2 separate regions of the Homo sapiens genome follow, and region 2 is linked to region 1. The links come from fine-mapping of genetic effects on gene expression. A gene starts in region 1. The other region holds a variant in brackets. All regions are shown on one strand. Distances are between the middles of the regions. Region 1 holds the start of TEKT5 (tektin 5). Region 2 has its middle 10 kb from the start of NUBP1.

Region 1 (5,384 bases):
GTCATGACTAGATATGATAAATATAAAGATATTTTCTTAATATCATAGTGTGTTAACACTGTAAACACTAGATATTATAAATATCATAGATAGTTTGTTAATAGTGTGTTAACACTAGATATCACAAATATAGACATTTTATTGATATCATAGTGTGTTAACACTAGATATTATAAATATAGAGATTTTATTAATATCATTGTGTGTTAACACCATGTGTTAGCACTAGATATTATAAATATAGAGATTTTATTAATATCACAGTGTGTTAACACTAGAATTTGTAGCTGTGTTAGTTTACTAATATCACATTGTGTTAACACTAGATATTATAAATATCATAGATATTTGTTAACATCATAGTGTGGTAACACTGTGTGTTAACACTTGATATTATTATAAATATTTTAGATATTTTATTAATATCATAGTGTGTTATATATGACAATATCTAGATATATGCTATATATGTATGAATTATCTCTGGAAAAATCTGATAATATTAGTTATATCTGAGGAGGCTACAAGAAGCCAAGGATGATGAGAAACCCTAAATTTCACTTTATACTTGTTGATGTTACACAAAAAACCTTTTTTCCCCTCGCCTCCCCCTACACTTCCTCCAAAATAATATTTTACCATAACCATTTAGTGCTTAAAAAAATACTCGAAACTTTTTCGTCCATTTCTTGGCTGCCTTCTGTGTGTAGTCCCCTCCTGTATGTGACGTCCCATCTTAGAAGATCCTGAGAGGTAAGGGTTGTGAACGTCGGGAGGACCAGGGCCCACTTGCTTTTCTGATCCCACGCTAGAAGATGTGGGTGTGATGCCTTCCTTAAAGGTTTTCTGTGGAAATGAAATAAATGAGTCTATGTAAAGCACAAGAACATTGAAGATGCTTACTAAATGTTATTTATCTTCATTTTTGCTGCCTTGGTCCTCTCATACCCACTCGTGATTTTAGGCGATTGGGGGAAAATTGCTATTGAACATCATACTCTACTAACAAAGACCATTTGAGAGTTAGATTCATCTCTTTCCCAGTTCAACAGCAGAAAGAAGCCCCACAAATCAAGCACTCCTCTTGTTCTGTACCTTGTCACTTTGTTGCTACTCTCACCAGCCAAAGAGGGAGGAAAATTTCTTGGTGTAATTAAAATATTGTTATAGGCTGGGTGGTGGTGGTAGGGTGGGGGTGGGGGGCTCGTGCCTGTAATCCCAGCACTTTGGGAGGCCAAGACGGGACGATCGCTTGAGGCCAGGAGTTTGAGACCAGGCTGGGCAACATAGTGAGACCCCCATCTCTACAAAAAAAAAAAAAAATTAGCCAGGCATGATGACATCCATCTGTAGTCCCAGTTACTCGGGAGGCTGAGGCAGGAGGATCACTTGAGCCCAAGGGTTTAAGGCTGCAGTGAGCTACGATCATGCAACTGCACTCCAGCCTGGGCAACAGAGCAAGACTGTCTCTCTGAAAACAAAAAATTGTTATAGAATGTAGAGTTAATAACTTTTCTGGAACAAGAAAGCTCTCGTTTTAGATACCCATTCATTCACTCATTCAATAGTGTGCTGGATGCCAGGAATTTAATGGTGAGCAAAATAGACGTGGTCTCTGCCTCCTGATGCTCAAGATCCCTCCCTCTATTTTTAAAAATCAGGTTTATTGAAGTATAATTGATGTACAGTAAATTTTACTCTTTTTAGTGGAAACTTCTATAGGTTTCCACTAAATGTGTAACCAACACAATTAAGATCTAGAACATACTGTCTCGCCCCTCCCGATTTTCTTGTGCTCCTTTGGAGCCAACAACTCTCCCCCAACCTCTAGACCCTGGCAACCACTGATCTGTCCTCTGTCCGTATGGATTTGTCTTTTCCAGAATGTCATATACATGGACTAATACACAGTGTCATCTTTTGAGCCTAGCTGCTTCCACATAGCTTAAAATTTGAGATTCATTTGTGCTGTTTTGAGTAGTATTGCTGAGTGGTATTCCATGGTACCAATGAACCTTGTTTTTTTATTGGAGACAGTCTTGCTCTGCCACCCAGGCTGGAGTGCAGTGGTGCGATCACAGCTCACTGCAGCCTCCACCTCCTGGACTCAAGCCATCCTCCTGCCTCAGCCTCCTGAGTAGCTGGGACCACAGGTGCCAGCCACTGTGCCCAGCTCGTTTTAAAATTCTTTTGTAGAGATGGGGTCTCAATAAGTTGCCCAGGCTAGTCTCCTATACTAGTCTCCTATACTAGTAACTCCTGTACTTGAGTGATCCTCTGGCCACAGCCTTCCAAGGTGCTGAAATGACAGGCATGAGCTACCATGCCTCACCTCAGATGGACCATTTTGATGCCATGTTGGGGACAAAGAAAGAAAGAAAACAACTCGCTTTGACCAAATTGTCCCTGAGCTGATGAATTCACTGGGTAAACTACATTAATTTTCCTCCCGCCCAGTTGTAATAGGAAGATAAAATGTCACTTCTTGCAACCGAATCTGTGGATTATGAAACTCACATTCACTTTGCTGATTATTGTTTTTGTCTTTTTGTTTTGGACAATATGGCTGCAGCTGGCCTGTAAGTGAGCAAAGGCCCCGCTAAGAGTCCCTCTCCCCAGGCTTTATGACACCAGTGCTGAGTCATAGAGGTTCTGCTAGTCCCCAAGAGAAGCACTTTCACCTTTCCTGGTGATGCCTTTGGCTCCTTGAGCTGAGTTTTGCCCGAGTGGGGCTCATGAGGGAGGATGGAGTTTCTTGGGACTACTCAGACCGCCAGTTACTGTGGTCCCAAGAAATGCTGTGGCTTGACCTCACTGCCAGCTGTACAGGCGCCAGTGATCCAGGAATGCTATCAGCCCTACTACCTGCCCGGGTACCGCTACCTCAATTCATGGAGGCCTAGCCTCTTCTACAAGATAGCCAACGTCCAGACCTGCCCGGACGAGAGCACCAGTACCCTGCGGCCGCCCACCATCCTGCCCACACTGCGCTCCGCACTCTTCTCTCGCTATAGCCCCCACGACTGGGACCAGTCCAACCAGCTGCAGGTGCGTGGGGCCGAGGCCTCCCGGCTGTGGGCCAGCCGGCTGACGGATGACTCCATGAGGCTCTTGCAGGACAAGGACCAGCTGACGCACCAGATGCAGGAGGGCACCTGCCGGAACCTGGGCCAGAGGCTGTCGGACATTGGCTTCTGGAAGTCAGAGCTGAGCTATGAGCTGGACAGGCTTCTGACTGAGAACCAGAACTTGGAGACGGTCAAGAGGCGGCTGGAGTGCGCGGCCAATGAGGTGAACTGCCCATTGCAGGTGAGTACAGGGGTGGGGACAGGGCTGTGGCTGTGTCCTGGGGATACTGCACGCTCATTCTGCTTCCCTTGACTGAAGATGAAGGTGGCAGGCACCTTGCAGGTCGGTTTGAGCTGCATCATCGAATACGATCAGTAATACAATCTTAGTCAATTCAGGATAATCCCAGTCAAATCAGGGTTTCTTGGACTGAATAGAATTTCCTTTTCTCCTTGAAGCTACATCAAAGTTGCAGGGGTTTCATGAAAATATTGTGTGCATACTTATGCATGCCTGAGCATGTGTGTGTTCTGGTCCTTAAAGCACATGCTTAAAATAACTGACTTATTTATTTATTTTTTACACAGAGTCTCCCTCTGTCACCCAAGCTGGAGTGCAGTGGCTCGATCTTGGCTCGCTGCGACTTCCGCCTCCTGGGTTCAAGCGACTCTCGTGCCTCAGCCTCCTGAGGAGCTGGGATTACAGGTGCCCGCCACCATGGCCAGCTAATTTTTGTATTTTTAGTGAAGACAGGGTTTTGCTATGTTGGCCAGGCTGGTCTCGATCTGATCTTCCCGCCTTGACCTCCTAGAGTGCTGGGATTGCAGGCATGGGCCACTGTGCCTGGCCCATAACTGCCTTATTTTTCCCCGTAATACTTATCATTTAACATGCTCTATACTTGATTGAATATTAGAATACAGTATAGTCTCCATCAAGGTAGAGATTTTTGCCTGCTTTGTCACTGATGTATTCAAGACTGCTATTCAGTGCAGGGCACCTGTATGTCTGTGTGGGTCCGTAGTGACCAATGTCGGTGCTGACTGGTATTGTTTACACTAATGTTTTGAATGTATTCCCAGCCTAGGACAGGGCGAAGCACAGAGTAGGCATTCAATAAATACATGCTGAATAAATGAGTAAATATCTAAATGTGACTGGGCACAGTGGCTTACACCTGTAATCCCAGCACTTTGTGAGGCCAGGGCAGGTGGATCACCTGAGGTCAGGAGTTTGAGACCAGCCTGGTCAACATGATGAAACCCCATTTCTACTAAAAATACAAAATTAGCTGGGTATGGTGGCACATGTCTGTAATCCCAGCTACTTGGGAGGCTGAAGCATAAGAATCTCTTGAACCCAGGAGGCGGAGGTTGCAGTGAGCTGAGATTGCGCCACTGCACTCCAGCCTGTGCCACAAAGCAAGACTCCATCTCAAAAAACAAAACAAACAAACAAACAACAAACAAAAACTAAATGTGGACATTCCTAACACTTCCTTGGTCTCCTAGCCTCCAGTTGTCTCCCTGCTCAGTTAGGATAGTTTTTAGCCGCATGTAACAAATACTCCACGATAGTGGTTTAGCCAAACAGGAATTTATTTTTCTGTCATGAGGAAAATTCCAGAGGGAGACAGATCAGGCGGCTCCAGCCTCAACTTGGTGCCAGAAGGGACCCAGGCTCCTCTCTCTGTTCTGCCACCCACAGCATGTGGTTTGTGTTCTCCTGTTCCCAAGGAGGTTTTGCATTTTATACTGCAAGTTCCTGCATGCCAGGGGCCTCTTGATATTCTCATTCGAGGCAGGAAGGCAAGGGTAGAACAAAGAGCAGAAGCATCAATGGGCACCATTGCTTTTTATCAGGGAATGTCTTTTCTAGAAGGTCCGTCGTGTGTCTCCATGTTTAGCCTATTAGCCAGCACTCTCATGGACCCTGGATGCAAAGGGGTCTGGATAAGTGAATGTTTCTCACCACGTCCAGGAGAAAATCATGGAAGGGGTTGAGTGGACACTGGGTAAGGAACCAGCAGCACCTATGGGAACTGACTTTGGCCACAGAGGAAGATGATCGGCTGCTCCCTGGAGTGTGTGGGGAACTCAGGACCTCTTGCCTGGAAGCCTCCTGCAGCTACAGGGGCTTCCGTAGGAGAGATCCTGCCTCCGGATCTCCCTGGGAGACATGGCATAGGTTTCTATCACTCTAGGATGTCCAAATCCATGGAATGCAGGGAGCAGATTCTATACAACCCCAGATTCTCCCTGGGAAGAATGATGGGCAGGGCAGCTTTTCAGAGCCCTACAGCAGTATCCCAGACC
Region 2 (5,384 bases), 38 kb before region 1:
TGTGCATTTAACTTTTAAGCAACTACGAGGCCGGCACGGTGGCTCATGCTTGTAATCCCAGCACTTTGGAGGCCAAGGCGGGTGGATCACGAGGTCAGGAGATCGAGACCATCCTGGCTAACTCAGTGAAACCCCCATATCTACTAAAAATACAAAAAATGAGCCGGGCATGGTGGCCTGTAGTCCCAGCTACTCGGGAGGCTGAGGTGGGAGAATCGCTTGAACCCAGGAGGCTGAGCTTGCAGTGAGCCGAGATCGCACCACTGCACTCCAGCCTGGGCAATGGAGCGAGACTCTGTCTCAAAAAAAAAAAAAAAAAAAGAAACTACGAAACTGTTTTCCATAGTGATTATGCATATTCACCTGCAGGATATGAGACTTTTAACTGCTCCATATTCTTGCCAGCAGTGGGTACAGACAACCTTGGATTTTAAATATTTCAATAGATGCATAGGTTACAGACAACCTTGGATTTTAAATATTTCAATAGATGCATACTGCTGTATTATTGTAGTTTTAATCTGCATTATTTTAATGACTGTGTTAAACATCTTTTCCTATTTATTTATTTATTTATTTATTTATTTTGAGACAGAGTCTCACTCTGTCCCAGGCTGGAGTGCAGTGGCCCAATCTCTGCTCACTGCAAACTCTGCCCCCCAGGTTCAAGTGATTCTCATGTGTCAGCCTCCCGAGTAGCTGGGATTACAGGCATGTGCCACCACACCGGGCTAATTTTTGTTTTTTAGTAGAGATGGGGTTTCACTGTGTTGGCAAGGCTGGTCTCAAACTCCTGACCTCAAGTGATCTGCCCACCTCGGCCTCCCAAAGTGCTGGGTTACAGTTGTGAGCCACCAGGCCCGGCCTGAACATCTTTTCATGTGCTCACTTGACATTACATATTTTTTGTTGAGAGTGTTCATTCAAATCTTCAAGTCCACTTTATAAAATTTGGTAATTTGTTTTATTATTGAATTTTGATATTATGTATATATTCTGGATGGAAGTCTTTTTTTTTTTTTTTTTTTTTGAGACAGAGTCTCACTCTGTTGCCCAGGCTGGAGTGCAATGGCATGATCTCGGCTCACTGCAATCTCCGCCTCCTGGGTTCAAGCAACTCGACTGCCTCGCCCTTCCAAGCAGCTGGGACCACAAATGCATGCCACCACGCCTGGCTAGTGTTTGTATTTTTAGTAGAGATGGGGTTTCACTGTGCTGGCCAGGCTGGTCTCGAACTCCTGACCTCAGGTGATCTGCCTGCCTCGGCCTCCCAAAGTGCTGGGGTTACAGACATGAGCCACTGTGCCCAGCTGGAAGTCCTTTATCAATAATGTGTTTGGCAAATGTTTTTTCCTAGACTGTAGCTTGTCCTTTTATTCTCTTAAAAGTGTCTTTTGAAGAGCCATTCTTAATTTTGATGAGGTTTTATTTGTTCATTTTTTTCTTTTATGTATTGTATTTTTGATATTATATCTAAGAAAGAGTTAACCGAATGCAATGCCACAAAGATTTTCTCCTGTTTTTCCTTCTAGACATATTATAGTTTTAGACTTTACATTGAGGTCTCTGATCCATTTGGAGTAAATTTTTGTAGGTAATTGTGGTATGTAGTGTGAAATATGGGTTGAAATTCATTTTTTTCTGTTTGGATATCCAATTGTTCCAACATCATTGGTTGAAAAGTCTAGCCTTTCTCCACAAAATTAACTTTGTACCTTCATTGAAAAATCAATGGACCATTTCTGGACTCTCTCTCTCTCTGTCTATCTATCTATACACACATATACACATATATATACACATTCATATATACACATATATACACATACATATATACGCATATGTATATACACACATATATATATTGAGCCAAAGTCTCACTATGTTGCCCAGGCTGGTCTTGAACTTCTAGACTCGAGCAGTCAGCCTGCTTCAGCCTCCTGAAGTTCTGGGATTACAAGTGTGAGCCCCTTCGCCTGGCCTGGAGTCTTTATTCTGTCCATTGATCTATTTGTCTATCTTTATGCCAATACCATATGGTAGTTTTATAATAAGACTTGACCGTGATCATACCACTGCACTACAGCCTGGGCAACAGAGTAAGACTCTGTCTCAAAAAAAAATAAATAAATAAAAATAAAAATATATAAGGCTTGAAGTCAGAGAGCCTAAATCTTCCAACTTTTTCTTTCCAAAGTTGTTTTCGGCTATTCTAGGTCTTTGCATTTTCATACAAATATTACAATTAATTTATTAATTTGTACCAAAAAAGCCTACTAGGATTTTGAATGGGATTGTGTTAAGTCTGTCCATCAATTTAGGAAGAATTGACATCATAACAATATGAAGCCTTCTGGTCCACACGTATGACATATCTTTCTATTTAAATTTCTATTTTATTTTATCTATTTTAAAATTTTTTTCAGCAACAGTTAGTAGTTTTTTCCTCAGTCTTTTTTTTTTCTCTTTGTTTTATTTTGGATACTTTCTATTGCCATGTCTTCAACTTCACTAATATTTTCTTCTACAGGGTCTAATTTGCATTGTTATGAATGGAATGCTTGTGTCCTCCTCCCCCAGATTCATATGTTGAAGCCCAAACCAAATACCAATGTGATGATATTTGGAATGGGGACTTTGGGAGGTAATTAAAGCTAGATGAGGTCATGAGGATGGGGTCTTCATAGTGAACTTTGTGCTTTTATAAGAACAGACACCAGAGAGATTGTGCCTTCTCTCTCTCCATAGGCACACACCAAGAAAAGGCCATGTGAGGGCAGAGCAAGAAGCCAGTCTGCAAGCCAGGAAGATAGTCCTCACCAGAACGCAACCATGCTGGCGCCTGGTCTTGGACTTCCAGCCTCCAGAACTGTGAGAAAGT[AAGTG/G]TCTGTTGTTTAAGCCCCCCAGACTATTATTTTGTTATGGCAGCCTGAGCTAAGACATGTTCTTAATCCCATCTTGCATCAAGATGGGATCAATATTTTGCGTCTCAGACATTATAGTTTTCATCTCTAGAAGTTCAGCTTAGGTTTTTTTTTTGTTGTTGTTTGTTTGTTTGTTTGTTTGTTTTTAAGTATCATTCATTTTTAAGACTGAATGTGCTGAATCTTTTTTCTAGTTTCTTGAACACATAGAATACAGTTATAATAACCTAAAATATCCTAATCTACTAATTCCATTATCTGTGTTATTTCTGGTTTGGTTTCAATTGATTGATTTCCTCCCCTCATTTTGGGTCATATTTTCTTGTCTCTTTGCATGGATACTGCCTTTTTTTTTTTTTTAAATTGCATGCCAGAGTGCTAAAAATGTTTGTGCTTTTACAAATATTCTTGATCTTTTTTTTTCTAGGACACAGATAATTTACTTGGAAACATTTTTATCATTTTGAGACTTCCTTTTAAGCTTTGCTAGATGGGGCTGGGTGCGGTGGCTCACACCTGTAATCCATGGCTCACACCTGTAATCCCAGCACTTTGGGAGGCTGAGGTGGGTGGATCACTTGAGGCCAGGAGTTTGAGACCAACCTGGACAACATGGTGAAAACCCTGTCTCTACTATAAATACAAAAATGAGCTAGGTGTGGTGGCACATGCCTGTAATCCCAGCTACTTGGGAGGTTGACGTGGGAGAATTGCTTGAACCCAGGAGGTGGAGGTTGCAGTGAGCCGAGATCAAGACACTGCACTGCAGCCTGGGCAACAGAGTGAGACCCTGTCTCAAAGGAAAAATTAAAAAAAAAAAGTTTTGTTAGATGGGACCAGAGTGGTATAAGTCCAGAGCTCATTTTGCCTTAATACTGAGGTAAAACCTTTCTGGGATCTGACTTGATGCTACATGAATTATGACATTTTCTATTGCAGTTGTTGGGATCAGGAACTACCCAGCCTTGCATGAGCTCTGGGAATTGTTCACTTTAAGGCCGGGGTGGTTCTTTCCCCAGCCTGGGGTTGTTTGCTTGCATGCACCTGCTCAACTGAAGACTTAGGGGAGCCCTCTGCCCATCTCAGGACATTCTCTGCATGGCCCTCTGCTGCCTCTGCTCCATCCTTCACACCCTAGCCACATCGGCACTCCTCCTTCCCAGCTCTGTCTCTTGAAGGTCAATGGACTCCCTTTGGCGGACTGTTCGTGTGCCAACGCCTGGAAACTTTCCTCAGGCAGTCAGCTGGGCAATTATAGGACACACTTCATCTCTTTCCCACAGCACGGGGATCACCATCCTTCAAGACCTGATGGCCGGTGTCTGGAACACCATTGCTTTATGGTTTTTGAGTGTTTTTGGAGTCATTTCAGGTAGGAGGGTAAGATCAATCCTTGTTTACTCAATCTTGTCTAGAAGGTGAAATCTATTAGATTTTTATTGATACACATATATATGTATATTTATATTTAAATACATATATATGTTATATGTATGTATATTTATATTTAAATACATATATATGTTATATGTATGTATATTTATATTTAAATACATATATATGTTATATGTATATTTATATTTAAACACATACATATGTTATATATATGTTTGCTTTTATGTTTTTGAGGAATAAATATATAAATAATGGTATGGAAGGGCTTGACTGAAAAGTAAAAGTCTTCTTCTGTACCCCATTCCCCTACTCCACACCTGCCCGGCCCACAAAGATTTCTCACTTTGGCACTGTTTCCTGTGTATCCTCCCAGAAGTGTTTGTGTGTACAATTCCATATGTATCTGCTTAAGTGGTATCACACTATATTTGCTGTTTTATACCTTGGTTTCTTCACTTAATATACCCTTTTATTATTTTTTTTTGAGACACAGTCTTGGTTTGTCACCTGGGCTGGAGTGCAGTGGTATGATCATGGCTCACTGTAGCCTCCACTTCCTTTGCAGCCTCCACTTCCTGGGCCCAAGTGATCCTCCTACCTCAGTCTCCCAAGTAGTTAGGACTATAGGTGTGAGCCACCATGCCTGGCTAAATTTTTTATTTTTTGTAGAGGTGGAGTCTCACTATATTGTCTCATTTTGGCCTCAAGTGATCCTTCCACCTCAGCCTCCCAAAGTGCGTGAGCCACTGTGCCCAGCCATCTAATACAAAATCTTTCCTTATCAGCCAATACTGGTCTGACTTACTGTTTTTTTTGTTTTTTTTTTTGAGATGGAGGCTGGCTTTGTCGCCCAGGATGGAGTGCAGTGGCACGATCTCGGCCCACTGCAAGCTCCGCCTCCCAGGTTCACTCCATTCTCCTGCCTCAGCCTCCCGAGTAGCGGGGACTACAGGTGCCAGCCACCACGCCAGGCTAATTTTTTCTATTTTTTAGTAGAGACGGGGGTTTCACTGTGTTAGCCAGGATGGTCTCGATCTCCTGGCCTCAAGTGATCCACCCACGTCG

Evidence for each region.
Region 2: its variant is fine-mapped to the expression of TEKT5 in thyroid (GTEx, PIP 0.95). The same link has a PIP of 0.9 or more in blood mononuclear cells.

What each region holds. Positions count from the first base shown.
Region 1 is chr16:10,692,235-10,697,618 of GRCh38, reverse strand. It overlaps TEKT5 (tektin 5), which reads left to right and starts at 2,689. Exons shown (of 7, transcript NM_144674.2): 1 at 2,689-3,309. The coding sequence starts at 2,746. It overlaps LOC105371079 (a long non-coding RNA gene), which reads right to left. Exons shown (of 2, transcript NR_188625.1): 2 at 4,646-5,001.
Region 2 is chr16:10,730,710-10,736,093 of GRCh38, reverse strand. No RefSeq gene overlaps it. Among named protein-coding and RNA genes, the nearest start is that of NUBP1, 10 kb to the left of the region's middle. The variant AAGTG/G (reference allele first, on the strand shown) is at 2,882.